Homo sapiens: one gene and its partners. The protein of the gene in region 6 purifies or fractionates together with the protein of the main gene of each other region. This does not show direct contact. Each region holds a gene or a part of one and is shown on either strand. Other genes may lie near its edges. The genes, in order: FXN, PPA2, TIAL1, ACBD3, TKT, SRI and MPI.

Evidence for each region.
Region 1: the proteins of SRI (region 6) and FXN fractionate together in Homo sapiens (co-fractionation; one large-scale study listed by BioGRID). This does not show direct contact.
Region 2: the proteins of SRI (region 6) and PPA2 fractionate together in Homo sapiens (co-fractionation; one large-scale study listed by BioGRID). This does not show direct contact.
Region 3: the proteins of SRI (region 6) and TIAL1 fractionate together in Homo sapiens (co-fractionation; one large-scale study listed by BioGRID). This does not show direct contact.
Region 4: the proteins of SRI (region 6) and ACBD3 purify together in Homo sapiens (pull-down; one large-scale study listed by IntAct). This does not show direct contact.
Region 5: the proteins of SRI (region 6) and TKT fractionate together in Homo sapiens (co-fractionation; one large-scale study listed by BioGRID). This does not show direct contact.
Region 7: the proteins of SRI (region 6) and MPI fractionate together in Homo sapiens (co-fractionation; one large-scale study listed by BioGRID). This does not show direct contact.

The regions. Positions count from the first base shown.
Region 1 is NC_000009.12:69,042,252-69,045,751, forward strand, and holds part of FXN (frataxin, mitochondrial isoform 1 preproprotein), read left to right. Parts: intron 1-3,500.
Region 2 is NC_000004.12:105,443,063-105,446,562, reverse strand, and holds part of PPA2 (inorganic pyrophosphatase 2, mitochondrial isoform 1 precursor), read left to right. Parts: intron 1-60; coding exon 61-180; intron 181-3,500.
Region 3 is NC_000010.11:119,590,465-119,593,964, forward strand, and holds part of TIAL1 (nucleolysin TIAR), read right to left. Parts: intron 3,056-3,500; exon of another isoform or gene 2,988-3,055; intron 1,654-2,987; exon of another isoform or gene 1,512-1,653; intron 1-1,511. UniProt on the Homo sapiens protein: RNA-binding protein involved in alternative pre-RNA splicing and in cytoplasmic stress granules formation. Shows a preference for uridine-rich RNAs.
Region 4 is NC_000001.11:226,180,242-226,183,741, forward strand, and holds part of ACBD3 (Golgi resident protein GCP60), read right to left. Parts: intron 1-3,500. UniProt on the Homo sapiens protein: Involved in the maintenance of Golgi structure by interacting with giantin, affecting protein transport between the endoplasmic reticulum and Golgi. Involved in hormone-induced steroid biosynthesis in testicular Leydig cells.
Region 5 is NC_000003.12:53,246,023-53,249,522, forward strand, and holds part of TKT (transketolase), read right to left. Parts: intron 1-3,500. UniProt on the Homo sapiens protein: Catalyzes the transfer of a two-carbon ketol group from a ketose donor to an aldose acceptor, via a covalent intermediate with the cofactor thiamine pyrophosphate.
Region 6 is NC_000007.14:88,213,539-88,217,038, forward strand, and holds part of SRI (sorcin), read right to left. Parts: intron 3,220-3,500; exon of another isoform or gene 3,122-3,219; intron 3,047-3,121; exon of another isoform or gene 2,905-3,046; intron 1,399-2,904; exon of another isoform or gene 1,038-1,398; intron 1-1,037. UniProt on the Homo sapiens protein: Calcium-binding protein that modulates excitation-contraction coupling in the heart. Contributes to calcium homeostasis in the heart sarcoplasmic reticulum. Modulates the activity of RYR2 calcium channels.
Region 7 is NC_000015.10:74,888,697-74,892,841, reverse strand, and holds the start of MPI (mannose-6-phosphate isomerase), read right to left. Parts: upstream 2,801-4,145; 5' UTR 2,769-2,800; coding exon 2,753-2,768; exon of another isoform or gene 2,645-2,752; coding exon of another isoform or gene 2,641-2,644; intron 2,405-2,640; exon of another isoform or gene 2,316-2,404; coding exon 2,188-2,315; intron 1,464-2,187; coding exon 1,263-1,463; intron 182-1,262; coding exon 40-181; intron 1-39. UniProt on the Homo sapiens protein: Isomerase that catalyzes the interconversion of fructose-6-P and mannose-6-P and has a critical role in the supply of D-mannose derivatives required for many eukaryotic glycosylation reactions.

The DNA of each region.
Region 1 (3,500 bases), on a different chromosome or scaffold from region 6:
AAAGGAAGAACACTCATCCTATGACCTTGACCTCCAAGCTTTGCCTCCCTCAAGCAGAACAGAATGGAGCCTCCCTTAGGCAGAGGCGGAAGTTTGCCTCTCACCTAGTTCTCCATTCTTTTGTTCAGAGCCTGAATACCCTCAGGCTCTGTACTTGGGGTATTTCTGTTCTCTTGTTTTATGCTCACGGTTGTGAGGTTTGTTGTGAGTACCACGATCCCTTCCTTCAGAGGAGTAAACTGAGGTTCCAAAAGGTTTAGCAGTTGCCCGAGGAATATTAAATTGGCAAAAGCAGGTAGAATATAAAGCAAGGAGTATTTGGCAACGGTTCTTTTTTATGATTAAAAACAGCCGAAGAAAGACTTCTACTTGTGCCTTTGAAGGAGTAACTGCATTTGACCTTCCCACCAGTAACAACCATCAAATCTCTATTAAATTAAACACACACACACACAAACAAAAACAGCTATTGTGAAGGTATCAGCGACTAAGACAACTAAGGTTTGAGGGGCCAGGATCCTGGAGAGATGGAAACTTCCCTGAGGTGAGCCCCACATTCTCAGACACTTTTCCTTGGATGTTTTGAGCACTGCTTTAATTCCTGGGAAAACAATTCCTTCCACTGTGCACAGACTCTGGGGCCAGACAGCTTGGGTTCAATCCCAGCTCTGCCACTTAATGTCTGTGTATCTGTGTAGGCAAGTTACCCTTTGGTGCGTCAGTTTCCTCATCTGTAAAACACAACTATAGTTGATCCTCATTCGTTAAGAGTCTGTACTTGTTAATTTGCTCACTTGCTAAAATTTGTTACCCCAAAATCAGTACCCCTAGCCTTTTGGGGTCGTTTCAAAGATGTGTGCAGAGCGGCAAAAAAATGTGAGCTCCTCCAGGCTCATGTTCCCAGCCAAGGTCCAACAAAGTGCTGCCCTGCCTTCTTATTTCAGCTGTCATAGTGTAAACTGTGTCCTTTTCACAGTCTGATTAGTGCCATGTTTTTCAGATTTTTATGCTTTTTTCTTGGTTATTTCTCTGTTAAAATTGTCTCCAAGTGTAGTGCAAAGTTTAGCACGAGGAGGCTGTGATGTTCCTTACAGAGAAAATGCATGTGTTAGAGAAGCTTTGTCAGGCATGAGTTAAGGTGCTGTTGTCCTGAGATCAATTAATTTGTTGTTGTTGTTGTTTGAGACAGGGTCTCCCTCTGTTGCCCAGGCTGCTGGAGTGCAATGGTGTAATCATAGCTCACTGCAGCCTCTACCTCTCTGGCTCAAGCAATCCTCCCACCTCGGCCTCCTGAGTAGCTGGGACTACAGGTACACCCCACCACACCCAGATAATGTTTTTGATATTTTTTTAGGTGGAATTTTGCTCATCACCCAGGCTGGAGTGCAATGGTGCGATCCTGGCTCACTGCAACCTCCACCTCCCGGATTCAAGCAATTCTTCTGCCTCAGCCTCCTGAGTAGCACAGATTACAGGCACATGTCATCACGCCTTGCTAATTTTTGTGTTTTTAGTAGAGGCGGGGTTTCACCATGTTGGCCAGGCTAGTCTTGAACTCCTGACCTCAGGTGATCCACCCGCCTCCGCCTCCCAAACTGCAGAGATTATAGGCACGAACCACAATGCCCGGCCTCATGTTTTTTATTTTTCAAGTTGAAATGAGGTCTCTCTATGTTGCCCAGGTTGGTCTCAAACTCTTGAGCTCAAGTAATCCTCCCACCTTGGCCTCCCAAAGTGCGGGGATTACAGGTGTGAGCTACCATGCCCAGCCAAGATCAGTGTTAATGAATCAACTATATATATTACATAAGGTGTCTTTAAACAGAAATAAGGTTATATATTGATCGATTGGTAACAATGTTGTGACCAGCAGCTTACAGGGTACCTAGCCTTGTATTTCTCCTATAAATAATTTGCTCGTTGAGTGTTTGTGGCAACTTTGTAGCACATAACTACCAAGAATAAGGACTGTAATAAGAGTACGTCCCTCACAGGATTGTAATGAAGACTGAGTCCATTTACATAAAGGCTGAGAGCAGTGTCAAGCAGATGGAGAACACTGTAGAATGTGCGATAGCTCTAACAGTGGTTATCATGGCTGCCCTCTCACTTCTTCAGAGACATGTGTTTCTAAGGTCTGCACTCTGCCCCACCCTCCCCATCCACTGTCCCCCAGCCCGTTTCCTCCTCCACTTACTTCCCAGCCCTGTGCCTTCTGCCTTCTCTTTTCTGAGTTTGCTAAGGGCACTGCTGGCTCAAGAGCAGTAACTAACAGTCTCTCGCCTCTTCTCTCCATGGCAACCAGTGACCTTTGGAGAATGTAAACCTTATCACCAATCTCTTAAAGCCCTTCGGTGCCTTCCCAGGATGACGTCCAGCTGAGGTCCTTGGCAAGACCCAGGGCGCCCCCTCCTCGCTCCATCACCTCCCCTGTCACCTCCCCTGCATCTCCCTACTCCAGCTGCACCACTCTTGTGCCCCAGTGGCTCTTGTCTGATTATTTCCTTCATCTCCCCAGCTGGTCAGCAGAGCTGGTGGTAATCAACTCAGACCCTGTCACCTGGATGTCCAGCAGTTAGGGACTAAAAAAAATCAACAGGTCACATTCTGTCCTGCAGATCATGATAATAAGATCTGTCAGACAGCAGTCAGCAGTCAGAGCCAAATCTTCTGGACTTCAGCAGGATTCTGCCTCTTGCTATTTCCTGTTGCCTCTCTTAGTGACCTTTTAAGAGCATTGTGGATGCCTCCCAGCCTCCTGCTAACCACCCTGTAACCTGAACAGCCTGCAGCAGCCCTGCCCAGTAGAACTTCCTGATGTGATGGAAATGCTGTGTCTGCACCACTAGCCACATGTGGCCACAGGATTCTCGAAACTGGTGGTGCAGTTGAGGAGCTGACTTTATATTTTATCTCATTAAATTTAAATGTAAATAGCTACGTGTGGCTTGTTGGCTAGCCTATTGGAAAACACGGGCTTAGAGAGACACAGGGAGAATCACTGTAATGCACTAAAAGAAGGTAAAAAAAAAAAAATCCTAAGAAATATTCCTAAAATACTTTAATATAGGGCTGGGTGCGGTGGCTCACATCCAGCATTTTGGGAAGCTGAGGAGGGCAGATCACTTGAGGCCAGGAGTTCAAGACCAGCCTGGCCAACATGGTGAAACCCCGTCTCTACTAAAAATACAAAAAATCGGGTGCGGTGGCGGGTGCCTGTAATCCCAGCTACGCGGGAGGCTGAGGCACGAGAATCACTCGAACCCGGGAGGCGGGGGTTGCAGTGAGCCGAGATCGTGCCACTGCACTCCAGCCTGGGCGACAGAGCGAGACTTCATCTCAAAAACAAAAAACAAAAACCAAAAAAAAAAACTTCAGCATGATTATTTAACCAAAATGCAGGTTAGTTGTTCACCGGATGCAGAGTCCAATTAACAAGAGCAAGGCCTGGTACCAAAAAAAGTGAATTTACTCCGAAACTAGCTTGGGTGAGGGGTACA
Region 2 (3,500 bases), on a different chromosome or scaffold from region 6:
GGACATAGAATTAATTATTTCTTATCCCATCTCCTTTTCTTCCTTCTGTGATTTGCTTAGATTGCCACCAAGGAGCCAATGAATCCCATTAAACAATATGTAAAGGATGGAAAGCTACGCTATGTGGCGAATATCTTCCCTTACAAGGGTTATATATGGAATTATGGTACCCTCCCTCAGGTAACATTTTTGTTACAATGGTAAAATGTTCCTGTCTTCTGAAAAAATTGCCTTATAAATCCTGTGAACTACTGAATTTAAATTGGTTCTGAGGACATGTCATTTGGAGAGGTTTGTAAATTTGGAATTTATTAACGTGGATGGAGTTTTAGTATATCAATAAATTTTGTTTTAAACCATATATATGTCTATACTCAAGTTCTTGGAGTCAGGCATATGGAATGTTCACATTTGACATTTTGAATACATTTTTTTTTTTCTGGTCTTGCCTATTAAGTGTCAGTGAAAAACTTTTAAGCGAGGCTTTATCTACAGTCATTCCTTTGAACATGACAAGTTATGCTTTTATACACATTCATATATGATAGCACAAATTTTATATTTTAAACTTTAACAGATGAATGTGTTAAATTATTAACTTTTTCCTGGAACTCATTGTAAATTGAATTGCACAACTTATTTACTGTTATGAGTTAATAATTTTTAAGTAGAAAGCAGAGAAAACAAGAGCTAAATAATGATAAGGTAGCATTCCTGTTGGAGAATAACAACTATTTGCTTTTCTTCCTTTCTTTACCTCTTTTGGTTTTCTCTCATGTTTCCTCATTCCCAGGAAGAGGTAACTCTTCCAGATTATTTAGTGAGTAAAACTCAGAATATGCTGAATCAAAATTCTAGGTTTTGGGGACACAGAGAACCATCTGCCTTTATGTTTATAAAAACCATAGACCATCTGTCTGGAAATTTAATTTTTATATTTTTATTTATTTTAATATTTTGCATGAAATTTCAAGATGGTATTGGGGAAATATCTGAGAAGAGAGGTCTTGTTTTATCCAACATGAAAAAGCAGCTGCCCGTGTAGAATAAACATTCACAGGAAAATTTAAAAAAAAATTGTTTTCTAAAGAGTCAGGCTGTCTCTGATTCAGTTAGATCACCCACATGGATACATTCTTGGTTAAAATGGGCACTTCTAAAGTGATATGCTAAGAATGAGAATGCCTGTGGAAACCATGAAAGCAGGTTTTCTAACTCTCCAGGTACTTAAATAGGTATGCTGTTTGACCCAACAGCAAAAGGTTGAAAAAGTTCTGTAAAGCTTAGGGGATGCAGCCTGTAGGAAATGTGTGGATGAGGGTAATGCTGAAGAAGCCAATGAATTAGAGACAGACAAAAACAGAGACGTAAGTAGAGGAGCTAGAGAATAAACTAAGGTGCATGTATTTATTTCTTTAAACATTTATTAAGGATTTATGTGCTAGGCAGGATATTAGGTGTTGGGTATATAAAGACAGATGGGATATAGATGTGACATCAAGGCCTCATAATAAGTGACTGGAAAATGTGGGTTTGGGAGTGAGATTGTCACTTTCTAGTAATGTGACCTTGGGCCTTGGGAAAGATACTTTTCCTCATTTTCTTCATCTGTAAAATGGAGAACATAAAATATCTACTTCTTATCTTTGTGTTGAGATTAAATGAGTTACTGCATTTGAATAGTGTGTAACATGTAGTAATCAATTATTGTTATAATTAAGACTGGTACTTTTATTATCGTATGGTTCTTTCCCTAAAGTTGTTTTTAGTCTGATTGGGGCAATCAAGAACTAAACTGCTGGTTATGATGTGGTATAATAGGCACTACTAATTCATCTACTAATTTAAAATTATGAAAAAAATAAAAAAGCAAACCTATTGACAGGAAAGAGAGAAGGGGAGGAACGGAGGTAAAAACAAAAGAAGCTTCTGTAGTTTTCCATTTAAAGTCCTGCCAAACTTCTGTGCTCCTCTGGATGTGTCTGGATTTCCAGATGTTCTGCAGTGGTATTAATCTGGCAGGTACGGTAGTTCTTCTACTAATAAAACAGAATTAGACTGTGGTAGTCCCTTAATTCATTATTCACCCTGCATTCACCATTGCCTACCTAAGTTTCATACTCCATCCAATATCCAAATTGATATTTTTAAAACACAAATTTGCAGATGCTTTTCTTGTACAAGAACACCTTAATGGTCTCCTGTTGCTTAAAAGATAAAATACAAAATTCTTAACATTGCTACTCAACCCTGTGTGATCTGGCCTCCGCTTACTTCTCTATCCTCATTTTGCAGCATTCCCCCTTTCTCACGTCTATCCACCACAAAGTCTTCTTCAGTGTTTCTAACTTACCTCATTGTGTCCTCACCAGGCCTTCACCAAACTGTTCATTCATTCAGTACATATTTATTAAAGGCCTGTATATTTGCAAGGTGTTCTTGTAAGTACTGCAGGTAAAGCAGTGATAAAAAGTGACAGATATTTCTCTGGAGCTTTTATTTTAGTCAGATAAACAGACAATAAACAAAATAAACCCCAAGTAAAATGTCAGGTGGTGGTAAGTATGTCAAAGAAAAGTTAAGCAGGGAATGGGACTAGGGGATATTAGGATTGTTGCAATTTAGACAGGGAGACGATCTCAGTGAAAAGGTGTTATTTGAGTAAAGATCTAAAGGAAGTGAGGGAACAAGTAGTGTGGACATCTAGAGGAAGAGCAGTCCAACAAGAAACAGCAAGTATAAAGGTCCTGAGGTGGAAATAGGCCTAGCATGTGTGAGTATCAAAAAGGAAGCCAGTGTGGCTAGAATGGAAGTGAAAGAGGAAATAGACCTGCATTCTGTCTGCCATTTTCAATTAGAGATCTGTACTACTTTTTTAAACCTGACTGATCTTGGAGAGAGAGAGAGAAAAAGAGAGAGAGAGTCTGTGTGTGTGTGTGTGTGTGTGTGTGTGTGTGTGTGTGTGTGTGTGAATACACCATAAATTGCATATAAGTTAGTTATTTATCAAAGAAAATAACTAAATTGAATGATGTTTTTAAGAATGCTGAAATCATGCCAATTGCTTATGGGATAGCTTATGGAATAGCTCTACCTGATTTTTTTTTTTTTTTTTTTTCTGCTTGATGGTTGATGTTCAGACATGACCCTGTTAAAATGAAAGCCAGCCCCTGGTCCCATTTATCTTTTTAATCTCATCTCCAACTCTCCTTCTGCCTTCTGCTTCTTCACTTCCACACTGGCACTCTGGTGCTCAAAGCACACTGATGTCTCAAGCCCTCACCTTCACTGTGTCCTTTCCTGGGAACACTCCTTTCCAGGTATGCACATGGCTTCCTTAGGTTGCCTTTAACTCATCTTCTTCATAGTATCTGCCAATCATCCTTTAAAACTTTTAACCCTACTCCCATTCCCCCTCTCATACTTTATTTCCCTTTTCTATAACACCTGCCAAATTGTAACCTGCTGTATAATTTATTTATTATGTTTATTGTTAATTT
Region 3 (3,500 bases), on a different chromosome or scaffold from region 6:
ACTTTGGGAGGCTATGGCAGGCGGATCATGAGGTCAGGAGTTTGAGACCAGCCTGACCAACATGGTGAAACCCTGTCTCCACAAAAAATACAAAAATTAGCCGGGCATGGTGGCGCGCACCTATAATCCCAGCTACTCGGGAGGCCGAGGCAGGAGAATCGCTTGAACCTGGGAGGCAGAGGTTGCAGTGAGCCGAGATTGCACCATTGCACTCCAACCTGGGCGACAGAGTGAGACTCCATCTCAAAAAAATAAATAAAAAAGAAAGAGAGAAAGAGAGAGAGACAGAGAGAAAGAGAGAAAGAAAGAAAGAAAGAAAGAAAGAAAGAAAGAAAGAAAGAAAGAAAGAAAGAAAGAAACGAACAAGTGATCTTGAGCTTCTAAACATTATGCTCCTTGCCTAAAGGGCTAGTTAGCTCACTTCTAAGAGAAAAGAAGGATGGATAAAACTGGTTTTCACATATTGAAGCTAGCTAATAACAAAATTAAAATAGAATTATCATTTTAATATAACACATTTTAAATGATTTAAATAGTTTTAAATTTCCATTACTGTTTAAACATCAATTTCTTCAGGAAAAACTGTATTGGAATTAGTTACCTTCTATATCTAATAGTCACAAAAAAAGCCGTCACTGCTTAATAAGATCTTTATTCCACCAGGTGTGGTGGCTCACACCTGTAATCCTAACACTCTGGGAAGCCGAGGCAGGTGGATCACTTGAGGTCAGGAGTTCAAGACCAGCCTGGCCAACATGGTGAAACCCCGTCTCTACTAAAAACACAAAAAATTAGCCAGGCATGGTGGCGGGCACCTGTAATCCCAGCTACTTGGGGGAGGCTGAGGCAGGAGAATCACTTGAACCCGGGAGGTGGAGGTTGCAGTGGGCTGAGATCGCGCCATGGCACTCCAGCCTGGGCAACAAGAGCGAAACTCCATCTGAAAAAAAAAAAAAAATCTTTATTCTAAGTCAACCTATTTCCCGCCAGTTACAGATCTTGAAGAATTTCTAGAGGCATATTTAGATATATTAATTTACATTTCTAGCACTGAAAGCAAAGATGAAAACGTTAATATCTAAGTTTAGAATGTCATGAAATATTTATTTAAAAATCCAGTATTAAGGTTTCCTATTTTTCAAATTATCTCCACTAAAAGTTAAATGTTAAGCAGCAAACTAAATTTCAAAAACTAACATGAAAGGCCTTCCATAACAACACATACAATATCTTAATTTACCAGGATTAAAAGGCCATGATTCACTATATAATTTCACCTAAACTTTACCCAAATTTCAGACTGCCTTTTCTTTTACTGAGTTCTTGTACCCAAATTTCAGATTGCCTCTTCATTTACATTTGCCTTCGTGCATCATAACACTTGAGAGACGTATTGTATAGCTTTTAAAATACTGTACTATTCTATTTTAAGTACTTTTACAGTATCATAAAATAATCTGTCCCAAAGTAAATACTAACAAAAATATTTAAGACAAAGTTCAATGCCTGACCTAGTAAGATCATCTCTTGGTAGTTCATTGAAATGACATCTTTATTCGTTCCAAATTATAGCTTCTACACTTCACTTTCTTTCTGCTCTGGTTATGAAATAGTCAAGCTAAAGATCCAAGTCTTTAAATATATAATTGCTACCTAAAGAACATACACAAAATAACAGAAAAAAGATAAATGGCTCTAATTTTTGTATTGAGAGGTCAATTCAAAGAGTAAACACTTAGGAAATTCCAAAATGATTTTTAACTCAACGAAAAAATTCAGAAGAGGCATACCTTAGAGTCTATTTTGTCTTCTAAGAACAGGAACTGTAGGAACTGAAGCATTAAAAACTGAAAATGACACCTTTATCTCTAATATCAGGGTTAAAATCCAATTTGGGGCTAAAAACTTAGCAGTTTCACAGTAGGCAGAAATTCACATTGCCAAACTACTTCCTGTGTCCGACTGGGCAGAATTTTAAGTTAAGAATATCATGCCTTTCAGAAGACTAATGACACTTTTTCAACACTGAATGTGCTCTCACTCTGAAAAGAGTAGCCCTACCAAGGCTGAAATTATCAGCACTTTCACACAAAAAACTATAGCTAAATTTCCATAATAGTTTTGCTTTTGTTCTTGACAAGTCCTATACAAGAAGAGATTTTGCAATAATATCCTTCAATAGATCTCTAATTAATTGTTCAATTTGTCGGTACAGTATTTCATTTTAGGAAGGAGGCATGATGGAAGATAGCTGCAGGAGGTACAACTAAATTGACCAACTATATATATGAGATATTCTCACACACACACACACACACACACACTCACTCTCTCTCTCTTACTTTAAAGAAACAAAGAATATGATTAAGTTGAATTTGAATGAGGGGCTTGATTATAGCCACAGTATAGCCAAATCCATGGTATAGCCAGTCAATTTTGTAATAGTTTATAGAATTTTCTTCTGCTTTGTTCTTAGATGTTCAGATTATACTCTAAATCATTAGCTTATTTCCAGGAAGAAAGAATAGCCTTAAAGGAAGGGATTGTGTAACATGGTATTACACGAATTCCTAGCAATTTTGGTGCATCCGATAGATGAAGAAAATAAAATAAGCTACAATAAAACACTATTACAATTTAGTGTCATATTGTAGATTCAGATATACCATGGATCAAATCACTGCACTACAAAGATACACACAACCCAAGCCTGAAATGTGTGTCCCACAAGGCAGGTGTCAGACAGTCCAGTTCCAACACCAGTATTACACAGCATGATCTTGTTTGTTTTTTTAGATCACAAGTTACTCAATGCATAATACCCCAAAATAAATGTCAAATGAGAATGAAGAACATCAGAAAACAGACCTTTAAAGCAACTATATGACAAATAGAAATTTAGGCTCAACATCAAAGCAATTCTTGCCACTTTAAATACCATCAAATAAATTAGTAATACTGTAGGTAATGAATATTTAAAGACCTACCTAGGCTCTAAACACCATATTGTTTTCTGAAGATAGAACCATATGTCTTAGCTTGTGTGTGTCTGCAGGAAAAAAACCTCACTAGTAACACACAGGCATCTTAAGGAAACAATTTAAGATAAGCTTTGTTAAGAACACATTCTTTTAAAACATACTGGCCACTTGAAAAACCTAATCCATAGCTCACAATGTAAAATATAAGATCTCCATAAACAAAAAACCCTACTAGATATCAACGTCTAAAATCATGTTCAGTTTTCATCATGTTACTTATATCTAATAGAACCCTTTGAGAATATGTAAAACGTACACTTAGAAAAACTATGCATTATTTGTATTAAACTCTAATAAAAATCCCAATTGTTAAACATTTGCTTTTATCTCAAGATTTTACATTTGAAGGTTTTAAAAAATATATAAAAGTCAACAGACTGCACCACATGTGACAGTAATGTCTGCCTACAATCTTAGTTCAACCAGGACTTTTAAAAAAGAACTTAATACTAATTTAAT
Region 4 (3,500 bases), on a different chromosome or scaffold from region 6:
ATTGCCTAGCATATACTAACTGCTTAGTAAAAGTTTTAAGACTTCCCCTCCATTAACTCAAAACATCCATAATCAATTCTCAGAAGTACCTCCTTTTCAACAACATAAGCAGCCACAAAAATACCAATAGCCAGGCATTCTGCTAAGAGTTTATATATATAATTTCTTATAATTCCTAAAACAACCCTTTGAGTACAGGAAAGCACAAAAAGTTAACAAAATTAAGTGGCAGAGCAAGGAAAACACACCCTAAAGAGTGTTGACTCCAGAGCTTACCTTTCTAAATACTGATTCACAGTAGCTCTTGTATTAGTTAACTGATAAAACATCTGCTCCTGGGCATTGGCTACACTGTCCACTTTCTGAAAACTCATCAAGCTACACACTTAGTATTTGTGTACTTTAGTGCACTGCATGTGTGATAAAGGGAAGCCTCGGGAAAATGTTAAAATCACTTACATTAAAAACATATACACACTGGGCACAGTGGCTCACGCCTGTAATTCTAGCACTTTGGGAGGCCAAGGCAGGTGGATTACCTGAGGTCAGGAGCTCGAGACCAGCCTGACTAACATGGTGAAACCCTGTCTGTACTAAAAATACAAAAATTAGCTGGGCGTAGTGGCATGTGCCTGTAATCCCAGCTACTCGGGAGGCTGAGGCAGGAGAATTGCTTGAACCCAGGAGGCAGAGGCTGCAGTGAGCTGAGATCGCGCCATTGCACTCCAGCCTCGGTGACAGAATGAGACTCCATCTCAAAAAAAAAAAAAAAAACAATGACAACAACAACACATACACATTCCTGAATCCAGTCAAAGGAAAGTTTTGGTTCAGCTCAAATTTAACATGAACTTGGTGGCTATAATTGTTTTTCTGTCTTACATCTGTCTCTCTTAGGTCTATATATCCTCCTACAGTATTACATACTTATGTCTAAAGGTAAAGATAATAAAAGGGAAAAAGAACTCTAATAGATGTTCCATAGTAACAAACTTGAAATTATCTGAGGATAGACCACTGAAGTCCAGGAGGCACACTAATTATATATGTTTCCAATGAATAAATTACAGCTGTACAGTATTTTAAAACATTAAGGAAGCCATTTATAAATGCTCTTGTAGTTGCCTATGTTTAAAGAAGACAAGAGGAAATGGAACCATTTCAGTTGTCCATTTGTTTGCTATCATTAATATAATTCTCTCCCAACATATAATACTCTACTATCAGTAACACAATTGGGTATAATCAATAGCAATGCTAGTAGAACTATTCCATAAAGAAAATGAGTCCAAGACTTACCTTCCAAATAACTGAGGGGCCTGAGGCAGGATCCTTAACTCAGAAATGGGATTAATACCCTTACAGAAGGCCTCTTGGAGGATTAAACAAAATAATGTACATACAGTTTTTGGCATAGTACCTGAGATTTAGTAAACATCTACTCAATAACTATTGACAATTATTACTCTGAAATCTTAAATTAATGTAAACAATCTACCAGCTTAATGTAATACAGTAATAAAGTATTAGAGAAGGAAAAGTCCACCCCAAAGAACTCTAAAAACCAAAATACAATTCCCCAGGTCAACTCCATCCAAGAAGTATAAAGGTCATAATAAAATGAACCCACTGGATTCCTGTGGGTCCTTAACCCATGGAGATAAGAAAACCTAGCTTAACATTGTTAAAATAGAACTGGGCAACTCTGGCCGGGCGTGGTAGCTCATGCCTGTAATCCCAGCACTTTGAGAGGCCAAGGCGGGTGAATCGCTTGAGCTCAGGAGCTAAAGACCAGCTGGGCAACAAAGCAAGACCTCTGTCTCTACAAAAAATACAAAAATTAGCCGGGCATGGTGGCTCGTGCCTGTGGTCCCAGTCACACAGGAGGATGAGGTGGGAGGATGGCTTGAGCCTGGGAGGCATAGGGGGCAGTGAGCCAAGATCGCACTACTGCCCTCTAGCCTGCATAACAAAACCAGACTGTCTAAAAAAAAAAAAAGAATTGAGCAACTTTGCTCCTCCCTTTAAAAACCTCCAGTGGTTCCTCATCTTCTAATTTACTGACAAAAAGGCCGAACTATTAATACTTACATGGCCAGGCGCGGTGGTTCACGCCTGTAATCCCAGCGCTTTGGAAGGCCGAGGCGGGGAGATCATTTGGGGTCAGTCCAAGACCAGACTGGCCAACATGGTGAAACCCCATCTCTATTAATAATACAAAAATTAGCTGGGTGTGGTGGCACAAGCCTGTAAGCTCAGCTACTCACGAGGCTGAGGCAGGAGAATCACATGAACCCAGGAGGCAGAGGTTGCAGGGAGTGGAGATCATGCCACTGCATTCCAGCCTGGGTGACATAGCAAGACTCCGTCTCAGAAAAAAAAAATGACAATGGCATGCAAGTCCTTCCAAGAATTGAACTCAGTTACCTTCCCAGCTCTCTCCATCAAACTGCTTTCTATTTTCCATTTTGCAAACAGACATGCTTTGACTTCTCATGGCTTTCATGGCTCTTGGCCTTCCCCCCTCTGGAATGGCATCTGCTCCCTCAGTCCTCCACACTGTACTGCAGTTGTCACTGGGTCCTTAACTCCTCTTTTGGACTCTAAGCAAAAGATAACGTACTATTCATTTATAGTTGTAACCTAATATAAAACTATCCATACTGAAAAGTCAATAATGTCTGAAATTTAGATGGTAAAATGCTAACTTACATTTACCCACATCTTCATCTATTTTACTTTTACTGTCATAAAAAATTAAGAATAGTTGACGTAATTGATTCAGTCACTGGCCTATTACCACCCTGACAAGGATGGAATAAGAAATAGGGCTTGTCATTTCCAACCCAAGCTATTTGCAATGGAAAAATATATCCATGCTTTCAAGATTCGTATTTATTCCACAGTGGAAGAGAAAATGTAATGTTCTTTCCTTTATTTATTTATTTTTTTGAGATGGAGTCTTGCTCTGTTGCCCAGGCTGGAGGGCAGGGACGAAATCTTGGCTCACTGCAAGCTCCGCCTTGAGGGTTCAAGTGATTCTCCTGCCTCAGCCTCCCAAGTAGCTGGGACTATAGGCGCCTGCCACCACGCCCAGCTAATTTTTTTATTTTTTTATTTTTAGTACAGATGAGGTTTCACCGTGTTAGCCAGGGTGGTCTCGATCTCCTGACCTTGTGATCCACCCGCCTCGGCCTCCCAAAGTGCTGGGATTACAGGCAAAAGCTACCACACCCGGCCGAAAATGTAATGTTATTTCTAATTCTCGTGAGATACTGGTATAAAACCATAGAATAGCGATTAAAAGTCCCAGCAAGACTGACAAAACACCATGTGTTCCACCAGAAAAATCCACACATTAAAACAAAGGTGCCGGGCACGGTGGCTCACGCCTATAATCCCAACACTTTGGGAGGCCAAGGTGGGCAGATCACCTGAGGTCGGCAGTTCGAGACCAGCATGGAGAAACCCCGTCTCTACTAGAAATACAAAAGTACCTG
Region 5 (3,500 bases), on a different chromosome or scaffold from region 6:
TCTGGGAGGCTGAGGTGGGTGGATCAACTGAGGTCAGGAGTTCGAGACCAACCTGGCCAACATGGTGAAACCCTGTATCTACTACAAATACAAAAATTAGCTGGGCATGGTGGCAGGCACCCGTAATCCCAGCTACTTGGGAAGCTGAGGCAGGAGAACCACTTGAACCCAGGAGGCTGAGGTTGCAGTGAATCAAGATCGTGCCATTGTACTCTAGACTCGGTGACAGAGTGAGACTCCATCTCAGGAAAAAAACAACAACAACAACAAAAAAAAGGAAACACAAACAGGGCTGCCCCGCATTGTTTGCAATTGCAAGACCTGGAACTCACTTATATGTTTATCAATAGACGAGGTTAACTGGAATATATTAATATAATGGGATACTATACAGCAGTAAGAATGAGCGAGCTACACTTCACAAATCCGGTATCAATATTCTCTCCCAAATATAGTGTGAAAAAAGCACAGTGCAGAAGGATCTGTTTAACAAAGAAGACCATATTGATTTATGTACAAGTCTTTTTGTATATACTACAAGGAAAACAGGCCAGGTGCGGTGGCTCAAGCCTGTAATCCCAGCACTTTGGGAGGCCGAGGAGGGCAGATCACCTGAGGTCATGAGTTTGAGACCAGCTTGACCAACACGGATAAACCCCATCTCTACTAAAAATACAAAATTAGCCGGGCATGTGGCACATGCCTGTAATCCCAGCTACTCGGGAGGCTGAGACAGGAGAATCGTTTGAACCCGGGAGGCGGAGGTTGAAGTGAGCCGAGATGGCGCCATTGCACTCCAGCCTGGACAACAAGAGCAAAACTCCGTCTCAAAAAAAAAAAAAAGGAAAACAATAGAATGATAACAAACAAAAAATTCAGGGTATAGTTCTTTCTCAGGGGAAGGGAAGATGAGGATGGAGGGACCCACTGTAGTTCCAAAAATCACTGTAATGTACTAGTTCTTAATCCTGGGAGCAGCTACACACAGGTTCATTATTTATGACAAGAGTACATCATTTATCTTCTTCTTTATGCATATACTTTTTTTTTTTTAAATATTCAGGTGGCTCACGCCTATAATCCCAGCACTTTGGGAGACAGAGACAGGTGGATCACCTGAGGTCAGGAGTCTGAGACCAGCTTGGCCAACAAGGTGAAACCCCGTCTCTACTAAAAATACAATAATTAGTTGGGCATGGTGGTGGGTGCCTGTAATCCCAGCTACTTGGGAGACTGAGGCAGGAGAATCGCTTGAACCTGGGAGGCAGAGGTTGCAGTGAGCTGAGATCTCACCATTGCACTCCAGCCTGGGAGACAAGAGTGAAACTCAGCCTCAAAAAAAAAAAAAAAAAAAAATTTAGAAGAGGCCAGGGGCGGTGGCTCACCTGAGGCACCTGAGGTCAGGAGTTCAAGACCGGCCTGGCCAACATGGCAAAACCCCGCCTCTACTAAAAACACAAAAATTAGCTGGGCATGGTGGTGCGGGCCACTAGTCCCAGCTACTTTACATGGGAGGCTAAGGCAGGAGAATTGCTTGAACCTGGGAGGCAGAGGCTGCAGTGAGCCGAGATCGCACCACTGCACTCCAGCCTAGGCAACAGACTCCACCTCAAAAAAAAAAAAAAAAAAAAAAAATACTCAGGAGAGAATCCCAGGATGTCAGGGTGGAAATGAACATCAGAAGCAGTTCTTGCTCTTCCTGTGCCCTGAACTACCCGAGCTGGCTTCTGCCCGGAAAGAACCTCTGGCTCCAGACCTCAGGTTGTTTCTTCAGATCTCTGCCCCATGTCACCTCTTCCAAGAAGCCCTCCCTGACCACACTGTCTAAAATAGCTCTTCTTCCCCTCACTCATGCTTGCCACCTGACATTAGGTGGTTATTGCCTGTCTACCCTACTGCAATACAAGCTCCTTGAGGACAGAGCTTTGGGCCTTTCACTGTTGTATCCACAGGCTTGAATAGTACCAGGCACAAACTGAGTGCACAAATGAATACATGATGTATCCTAGTAACCTTGGGGCTGTAACCTCTTTGAGCCTCAGTTTCCTCACTATAAAACGGAGGTAAAAGAAGAATCTGACTAAATGATGTAGTGTGTATGTACAGAACGTGGCACCATGCATAGAAATTAGCAATTGCTCAGTAAATATTAGACTATGCTTCATTCGGAGGATGGGGCCACTAAGGTTCACAGAAAGTGACTTGCCTAAAGTCACACGGCCTGCCAGCAGCAGAGCTAGGATAAGAGCAAAATGCTAAGAAAAACTGGTGAATGGATAAACAAAATGCACTATGTCCACACAACGGAATATTCAGCCGTAAAAAGAAATGAAGGGCTGGGCGTGGTGGCTCATGCCTGTTAATTCCAGCACTTTGAGAGGCCAAGGCAGGAAGAGGACTTGAGCCCAGAATTTGAGACCAGGCTCAGCAACATACCCTGTCTCTACAAATAATTTTTAAAATTAGCTGTGTATGGTGGTGAGTGCCTCCCAGCTACTTAGGAGGCTGAGCTGGGAAGACTGCTTGATCCCGGGAGGTTGAGGCTGCAGTGTGCCATGACTGTGCCATTGCACTCCAGCTTCGGGACACAGTGGAGACCCTGCCCCCCACCCCCCAAAAAAAAGGAACAAAGTACTGATTCATGTTACAACATGGATGACCCTCTAAAAATTATGCTAAGAGGCCAGACCCAAAAGAACTCATTCTGTATAATTGCATTTATATGAAATGTCTAGAAGAGTTAAATTTAGAGACAGAAAATTAGATTAGTGGTTGCCCAGGACTGGGGGTGGAAATGGGGAGTGACAGCAAATGTCCAGAAGAGATCTTTTAGGAGATGTGGTAAATTTTTGTAGTAAATCTCTGCAAATTCATTAAAATCACTTACAATGTTATGATACGCCAATTATACCTTAATCAAGCTGCTAGAAATTTGTTTTTATTTTTATTTATTTATTTATTTGAGACAAGTTCTCACTCTGTCACCCAGGCTGGAGTGCAGTGGTACAATCTTGGCTCACTGCAACCTCCGCCTCCCGGGTTCAAGCGATTCTCATGCCTCAGCCTCCCGAGTAGCTGGGGTTACAGGTGCCTGCTACCATGCCCGACTCATTTTTTTTGTATTTTTTAGTAGAGACAGGGTTTCACCATGTTGGCTGGGCTGTCTCGAACTCCTGACCTCAAATGATCCACCCACCTTGGCCTCCCAAAGTGCTGGGATTACAGGTGTGAGCTATCACACCTGGCCTAAAAATTTGTTTTTAAAAGAAAAAGGGCCTGGAGCAGTGGCTCACGCCTGTAATCCCAACACTTTGGGAGGCCAAGGCTGGCGGGAGGATCACCTGAGGTCAGGAATTCAAGACCAGCCTGGCCAACATGGTGAAACCCCATCCCTACTGAAAATGCAAAAATTAGCTGGGCAGTGGTGGCATGCACCTGTAATCCCAGCTACTTGGGAGACTGAGGCAGAAAATCGCTTGAACCTAGGATGTGGAGGTTAC
Region 6 (3,500 bases):
GGAAAACTTTCCTGACTCCTGTCTGGGTTATGTGCCCATTCTATGTGATTCCACAGCCTCTCTCTTATCCCAGTGCTTTTCCCAACACCCAGGCATTGATTGTGGCTACAGAGCCAGCACCTAGCTCATAGGAAGTATTCACTAAAAATGCACTGGTATGGATGGATGGCACCAAATTCTCACCCCCACGCAGGAAGCTGTAGAGCCCTGCACTTTATATGTACAACCCTCTTAGATCGTCTAAGAAGGAATGTTTTTTGAATAAAATTTTCTAATCTTTACTAATGCTCAAAAATTAATGTATAATCTTAAATCAAAAAGCCAATAAGGCTACAGGGCTATAATTTTTCTGACACAGAAAATTTTCCATATTCATTAACTCAACAGCCACTGTTAAGTACTTATTATGTTCAGGGCTCAGGGTAACAGGAACTTTGCAGATACAGTTGTGAAACTGCATACCGTCCTAGCTGACAGTCTAAGGAAAAGATAAGTCACATACACATATAACCCTAATCATGGTAGAGTGCTGAATTATAATGGAGGGGCCAGAAAGTACCAGAAGGGATTGAGAAGTGAGAAGCTCCTTCCCAGTAAGAGAATCAAGAAAGACTTTATAGAAGACAAAGAATTTAAGCCAAGCCTTGAATGACAAGAATGATGGGGGCATTTGGTGACAGCTAAGGACCAGCATAAGCAAAGAGAGAAGTAGAAGGCCTAGGACAGGCAAAGCGTAAGTGAATAGCTCAATATGACTTTCAAAGAGTACAAAAGGAGTGGGAGAAAATATGTTTGGTCAGGGGAGGGTGCATTACAGAGGACCTTGAATTCCTTCTAAGCTGTTAGTAAAGACTGAGGAGGAGAGGGACAGATCAGGAAGATCAGGAATCTGGTCATCTTTTGTGAGAAGGATCTGAAAGGGCAGTGAGATGGCAGTGAACAAAAGTGAATGAACAAAAAATACACCATTCTAGACAGTTCCAATGAACTAGAACGCTGATGTCCAATAAGTTTTGGTAAGGAAAACTCTTTCTCAATTTTGTTAATAATATAGCTTTTATTAGTGTTAATTCTATTTTAAATAATTATTTAAAATTAATTAAAATTATAAGTATTATATATTAGTTACGTAAATGTAACTACATATAATTATAACTATAAATTATAATTAAAATTATTAATTCAACATTTTGAAATTATTTAAATTAAATAATGTTAATTTTAATAATTTCCAAAGAATCTCTGCTGTAATTTACCTTTACTCTTTTTCTTCTCTTCTGTTCATTCTACTAGAATGCCTCAAACATCTTTTCTTCTCACAGAAACATACAATATAATGGACCTAGAAGGAAAGCCCTACCTCCAGCTGTTTCTCTCAACCTTATCACAGACGAACAACTAAATTCAGGGAAAAAAGAGAAGCTGAATTACAATCTTACTGACTGGAACACAACTTCTCTCACCAACTCCACCTCTAGGTATGACTGCTTCCTTTTAAACTGGTTAAGAAGGGCCCATAGGCTCTGAGCTGGAGTATCCCACCTGCTCATCCAATTCGGACCTGTGCTTTTTGGTTTGGAAGTTGGGTTTAAAAGACTAATGGCCATATAATATCTGCATTACAAAACACTGACACCTCATAGGCAGGATGGTTCTGTGGTTCAGTACGGCCACCAGAGAGTAGGCAAATGGATTCAATCACATAGGCCCCATGATTCAGGAAATGCTTTCTCTTTAATGCATTGATCTAAGGCCATCACTAAATGTGGCTTTCTCAATGAAATTTTAAAAGGACTGCTCTCTAACAATATACAACCCATTTTGTTAGTCAGATTCTAAAATCTGCCACACCTCATCTACTGAAAGGATGTAGAATAACAGGCCATGCTGTGATCTCACTGCACTTTGATAAACCCTGCTAATAGGCAGGCCTACCTTGTTTACCAGCTCAATTGCGTAACAATTAACAATTTAAATGTACTGCCTACACAGTAAAGAATAACATCCCCTAATCCAAAAAGTGCTTATTTTGTTTAGGACTAGATTAAATAACAGGAACTTGAAAGGTTCTTCGTTTGTATTAATTCCTCTAATTAGGAAAGAGTAATAGGATACTAAAGTCACATAAAACAAAGGATAATGAAAACAAATGCAAAGAGTTCAAAGACAGCCATCTAATACATGCCATGTCAAATAGTTTTTAAAAAAAGGCCACTATAAATTCACAGCTGTGAATTCTAGTTTGAACATTTTAATCCACAGCTAACCATGAAATTGGGTCTTCAATTTGATGTTTTGTCTCAATTAACAACTGGCAAAGAAGTTGGTAATGTATTTGAACTAAGACATTATTCTCTACCCTGGAAATCTATCATGTTCAAGATCTAATTTCAAGAGGAACCACTTCATATGTGTTGGATGATGAGAAGCCCCCAGTTGGGATGCAGCAATTTTTTGGATTTTCTGAGACAGGCTGTCACCCAGGCTGGAGTGCAGTGGCACAATCTTGGCTCACTGCAACCTCCGCCTCCTGGGCTTGTATAATCCTCCCACCTCAGCCTCCTGAGTAGCTGGGACCACAGGTGCATGCCACCATGCCTGGCTAATTTTTAAATTTTTTGCAGAGACAAGGTTTCACTATGTTGCCCAGGCTAGTCTTGAACTCCCGGGCTCAAGCAATCCTCCCACCTCAGTCTCCTAAAGTGCTGGGATTACAGGTGTGAGCCACTGTGCCCTGCCAGGGATGGAGCATCTTTGCAGTATTTCATTACTCTCAGCTCATGGCAGAGTGTTCAAAAGGCAGGGGTAGGGTAAGGGCTGAATTATGGAGCAGCAGGTCCAGTAAGTAGAAAGGCCACTTCCCACTTAGCCTGAATACATTCTATGAAGTGGAAGAGGAAAGACCTGAGGGATGTCATGGCAACCACTTATGTTAGCAGGAGCATGCCCAAAGCTCAGAGACCAGGAGTGCAGGATAGGCCACTCAGGGACCAGGGGTGCAGGGCAGCAACTCAAAGCCCTAAGTGCCACCAGGTCAGGGCAGAGTAGGCTCTTGGCAAATAACAGTAAATATCAGTTCCTAATGTCAGTTAATGACCCCTGACCTGGCAGATTCCATTTCAGCACCCTACCTTGTCCTCTGTGAAGGAGGCCACCCAAACTGTCTCACTGGTTCTAGGTACACAAAACCCAAATCTGAGAAATCCACTAGATTGGCAGGTAGGATGGAATAATTTATTATTATTATTATTTTAAAGACAAGGTCTTGCTCTGTTGCTCAGGCTGGAGTGCAGTGGTACAATCATAGATTACTGCAGCCAAAAACTCTTGGCTTCAAGCGATCCTCCTGCCTGGGCCTCTGAAGTACTGGGATTACAGGTGTGAGCCACTGTGCCCAGCCTGGAGTGATTTAAAAACTGTTTTCAAATCAACATTTTGAAATAGTACTGTATTTTAGCTTTCGGAATTCTAAACTTTGCTAGATCCGACAAGCTCAGTTT
Region 7 (4,145 bases), on a different chromosome or scaffold from region 6:
GGCCCAGTACGCATGCCTTCAGCATTCTGCCCAACTTACTCTTTAGAAAGGTTACAATCTCCTCAACTGGCCGGAAGCCACACAAGCCCTGGAAGGGGGTGAGGGCAATGGCCATCTCTGGCTTGTGGTTGGCATCGGGGTAGTGCTGCGGAGCCTGGAGGTGCAGCTTCTCTGCCAGCTCCTGTGGGGTGGCCAGGGGAAGAGGAGGATGGTGAGGGTACAGCCATTACCTAGCAGGTACACCAGTGCCACCTAGCCCCTGCTGTCCACCCTCCCCAGTTGCAGGATGGCAGTGACTACCTACCTCTGGCAAGGAGCCCAGTCAAAGCATGTTGCAGAAACTTGGGGCTCAGCCAACCCAGGGCAGGGGCAAATCAGGGGCAACCCCGGGGCAAATCAGGGAAAAGCTGGGGCAGACTTTAAGAGGCTTGGCCTGTGAATCAGGAAACCCAAATACCAGACCAAGCTCTGACACTAACAAGCTGTGTGGCTTTGGTAAATCCCTCCCTTCTCTGGGTCTTACTTTGTGTATCTAGAAATAAGGAGTTTTGGCTGGGCATGGTGGCTCACGCCTGTAATCCCAGCACTTTGGGAGGCTGAGGCGAGCGGATTACGAGGGCAGGAGTTCAAGACCAGCCTGGCCAACATGGTGAAACCCCATCTCTACTAAAAATACAAAAATTAGCTGGGTGTGGTGGCGCGTGCCTGTAGTCCCAGCTATTTGCGAGGCTGAAGCAGAAGAATTGCTTGAATTGGGAGGAGGAGGTTGCAGTGAGCCGAGATCGCGCCACTGCACTCCAGCCTGGGCGACAGAGCAAGACTCAAGTCTCAGAAAAAAAAAAAAAGGAGTTTTGATCCACAGTTGCTTAGGATGGGACTCCGGCTTGTGTAGGGAGACTCCATGGGGGTGGGGCTGAGGGTACCTGCCCTGCCTTGCAAGTTGAACTCTTCCTGAAAGCAGATGAGTAAATGGCAGATATGAATAGACATGGGTTGGATGAGGGAAGACCAGGAACAAGCCCCTTGGAATGAGCTTAGAGAAACTCCCCTGGCACAGGCCGGTGAGCTGTTTGCTTAGACTTAGTTGCTGCATGTGTCACTACCATCTGGCTTTGCAGAGCTAAATTGGGAGTTGTCAGCCTGGATTTGGCCTTGGGCAGGAGCCTGGCATGGGTGGGGTAAAAGTGGCAGTAAAAGTCACGGGAGGGCCTTAGCATAAGCCCTTCTGTACCCTGACCTCTGCACCGCACTCTGTCCTTTACCTTGTTAGGGTGTGCCTGGATGGACAGGGGTGTTTCAACTGAGAGCACTTTGAAGAGGAAGGGCAGGTTGCCATTAAAGGTGTCCTTGACCTTTGAGCCCAAGCTGTCCTGGTTCTCAGCAATCCACTGGCTTAGGGTCTTCTGTGAGATGCGGTTGTCAAGGATCTTGGCATCCCCTCGGGGGTGAGTCCCCATCCACAACTGGAAAGACAGGAAACTTGGGAGGGGAAGGGGGAAGAAACCTGCCACCCTGAGTTGGCCTGTCCCAATCCGTTATGCTGTGCTCCCCACAGGGCAACTGAGTCCTGGGAAAGGCCTCCCAGGTCTGGATACAAATGTTCATGCCATCATGGACATACAGGGAGGCAGTAGACCCAGGCCCTTGTCCAGACTCGGCCTCTAGCCATCTATGAAGACTTGGACTAGTTATTTCCCTTCTTTAGATGTATCTTCTTTGTCTGTCCAAAGAGGAGAATGACATCTGCACTGTCAAGGTAGCAGAAAAACTATGACTCTTAAATGATTCTTTCAGGGGTTAACATACATCTTCCAGTTTCAGAAGCAGAGGCGAAAGCCTTCCTATGCTTTGGCTTTTTCTCCACTAAATAGGCAGGAGAAATATTTTAGGTTAATAAAAATGCAAAAAAATAGTCAAAGTAAAAAAACTTAATTGTCAAAGAGGGCTGAATTAAAATTCACTAAGTGCTAAGAGTGGTTGGGGGAAGGAGAGTGCTGGAAATCCCAGCCTATTATGACAAAACCTCTCTTCTTTTTGATAACACTATCTAGTCCATTAGCCTGAAGAGCCAAGTGGGTCTCCTCCCTCCTTGCTGCCTCACCCTTCCCAGCTGATTCTTATGACTTGCCTCAGGCCCTTTCTCCTGACCTGCGGGTAAAGTGGGCTGAAATACAGCCCGGGGCTCACCTCTGCATAAGGCTTGTCCTCTGCGATCTGGGCCAGTGGATCACTGCTGGCCAACAGCCGCGCCACTTCGCTGTTGGAACCCATCTTCCCCCAGGCATACTGCTGCACCGCACAGGAAAGTGGGAATACTAGGGGCACAGACAGGGTCAGCTGCCACTCCACTCCTCAGGCCCCACCCTAGTGTCCCGGGAAACCAGGCAAGAGCTGGGGGTGCTCACTGGGGACAGAGTCAAATAAGGGTTTTGTAGGCTGTTGGATGAGACCCCCCTCCGCTGCAGGCCTCGATGTTCCCAACTGTCAGATGGGCAGCAGTAAGGACCTTGTGCTGATCTGAGGCAGGGTGGCGGGGAGGGAGCAGAAGGTACCTATCCCACGGCACGACGTCTAGAAGGGCCCCCTCCCCTCGGAGGTCAATCCCCATCGCAGGTGGCCACACCTCTGCCCGGCACCCACCCATCTTTCCGCGGAATGCCAGGAGCGGACTCAACCTGGCCGATAATGCCGGGAGTCGTCCCCAGGACGCGCTCCACGAACACACTCGCCGACACCCCAGCCAATGGCTCACCTCGCGGAGCGGCCATGCTCGCCCCCTGCACCAGGATTAAGCACGTATGCCTTTCCCGGCAGCCCCCGCGGCCCTCTGCGCCCAGAGCTTCACGGGAAATGTAGTTCCCTGAGCGTTCCGCCAGGCCCCGGGGCACCCGTGCCCAGAGGCTTACGGCCGCGATCTTCGGTCTCACTATTCATTCATTCTTTCCATCGCCGGGCACAGATGTACTGAAAACCTGCTAAGTACCACGGACTGTTCTAAGGGCTGGAGGATACATCAGAGAGCAAGATAGCCTTCCCTCTGCCTTTGTAGAGCGCTTACATTCTGGTGAAGGCAAGACAGACAAGTATTGTAAGCAAATCATGTAGTATGTTGAAAGGTCAAGGCCACAAAAAGTAAGGGGGCAGGTGGCAGTGGGAGGCAGTTTGCAGAATATAAAAGGCTGTCTGGGCAAGCCTCTTGAGGAGGTGAGGTTTGAGTCCAGACTTGGCGGTGAGGAAGGCAGGAGTGTTCTGCGGGGAGGAAACAGCCACAGCGGAAGCCAGAGCAAGGCGGGAATGTGGGACTGTGCCGGGCGTGTTGGGGAGGGAACTGCTAGCAAGGAGGCCACTGTGGCTGGAGCAGAGTGAGTAAGACAGGGGCAGTGAGGAGGTCAGAGAAGAGAGGAGGGGGGCAGAGCTTTGCAGGCTATTGCTATTGTGAAGACTTTGGGTTTTACTTCGAGTCTCAGCAATTACAGATTTGAGCAAAGAATTGCTGTGATGTGAGTAGGGACATACTAGTGATGATGATGGTAAATGTCACATGCAAGGCCCTTCACTGCTCTGAGCTTTGTAGAATGGGGTGAATAATGCCAGCCTGACATGCTTGTTGGAGGGTCAGATGGGATGACGTGAGACACCTATAAGGCAGTCAGCTCCCTGTGCTCCTCTGATCCTTCCCGTCCCAGGTGCTGTAGAAAGTCAGAACCCCAACTTCTACTCCAGGCTGAGCTGCTTACAAGTTGCACACACAGAAGTCAGGGGAATTACGAAGAGCTGTGCATAGGGAAGGATGGCCTTGGGCCTTGGCTCTGCAGTAATCTTGGCTATATCCTGTGGTGAAAGGCTTTGACATCCAGACCTTCTCAGTCAACAGCCTCCTAGGAGGAGGACAGTCAGTGGCTCAGGCCTGTAATCCTAGCACCTTAGGAGGCAGAGGCAGAAGGATTGCTTGAGGCTAGGAGCACAACAGTCAAAGCTCCGGGGAACCTGGAATGAGGAGTTACAGTCCTGACTCTACCCTCATCACCCCTGCAATACCCTCATTCCCACAGCCTCTACCATATGTGCCCAGGGGAAAGAGCGGGTGCCGTTTTCCCTGTAATCCTCTGCCCAGGTGTGGGTATCTATCTCACCTCCCCTGGGGT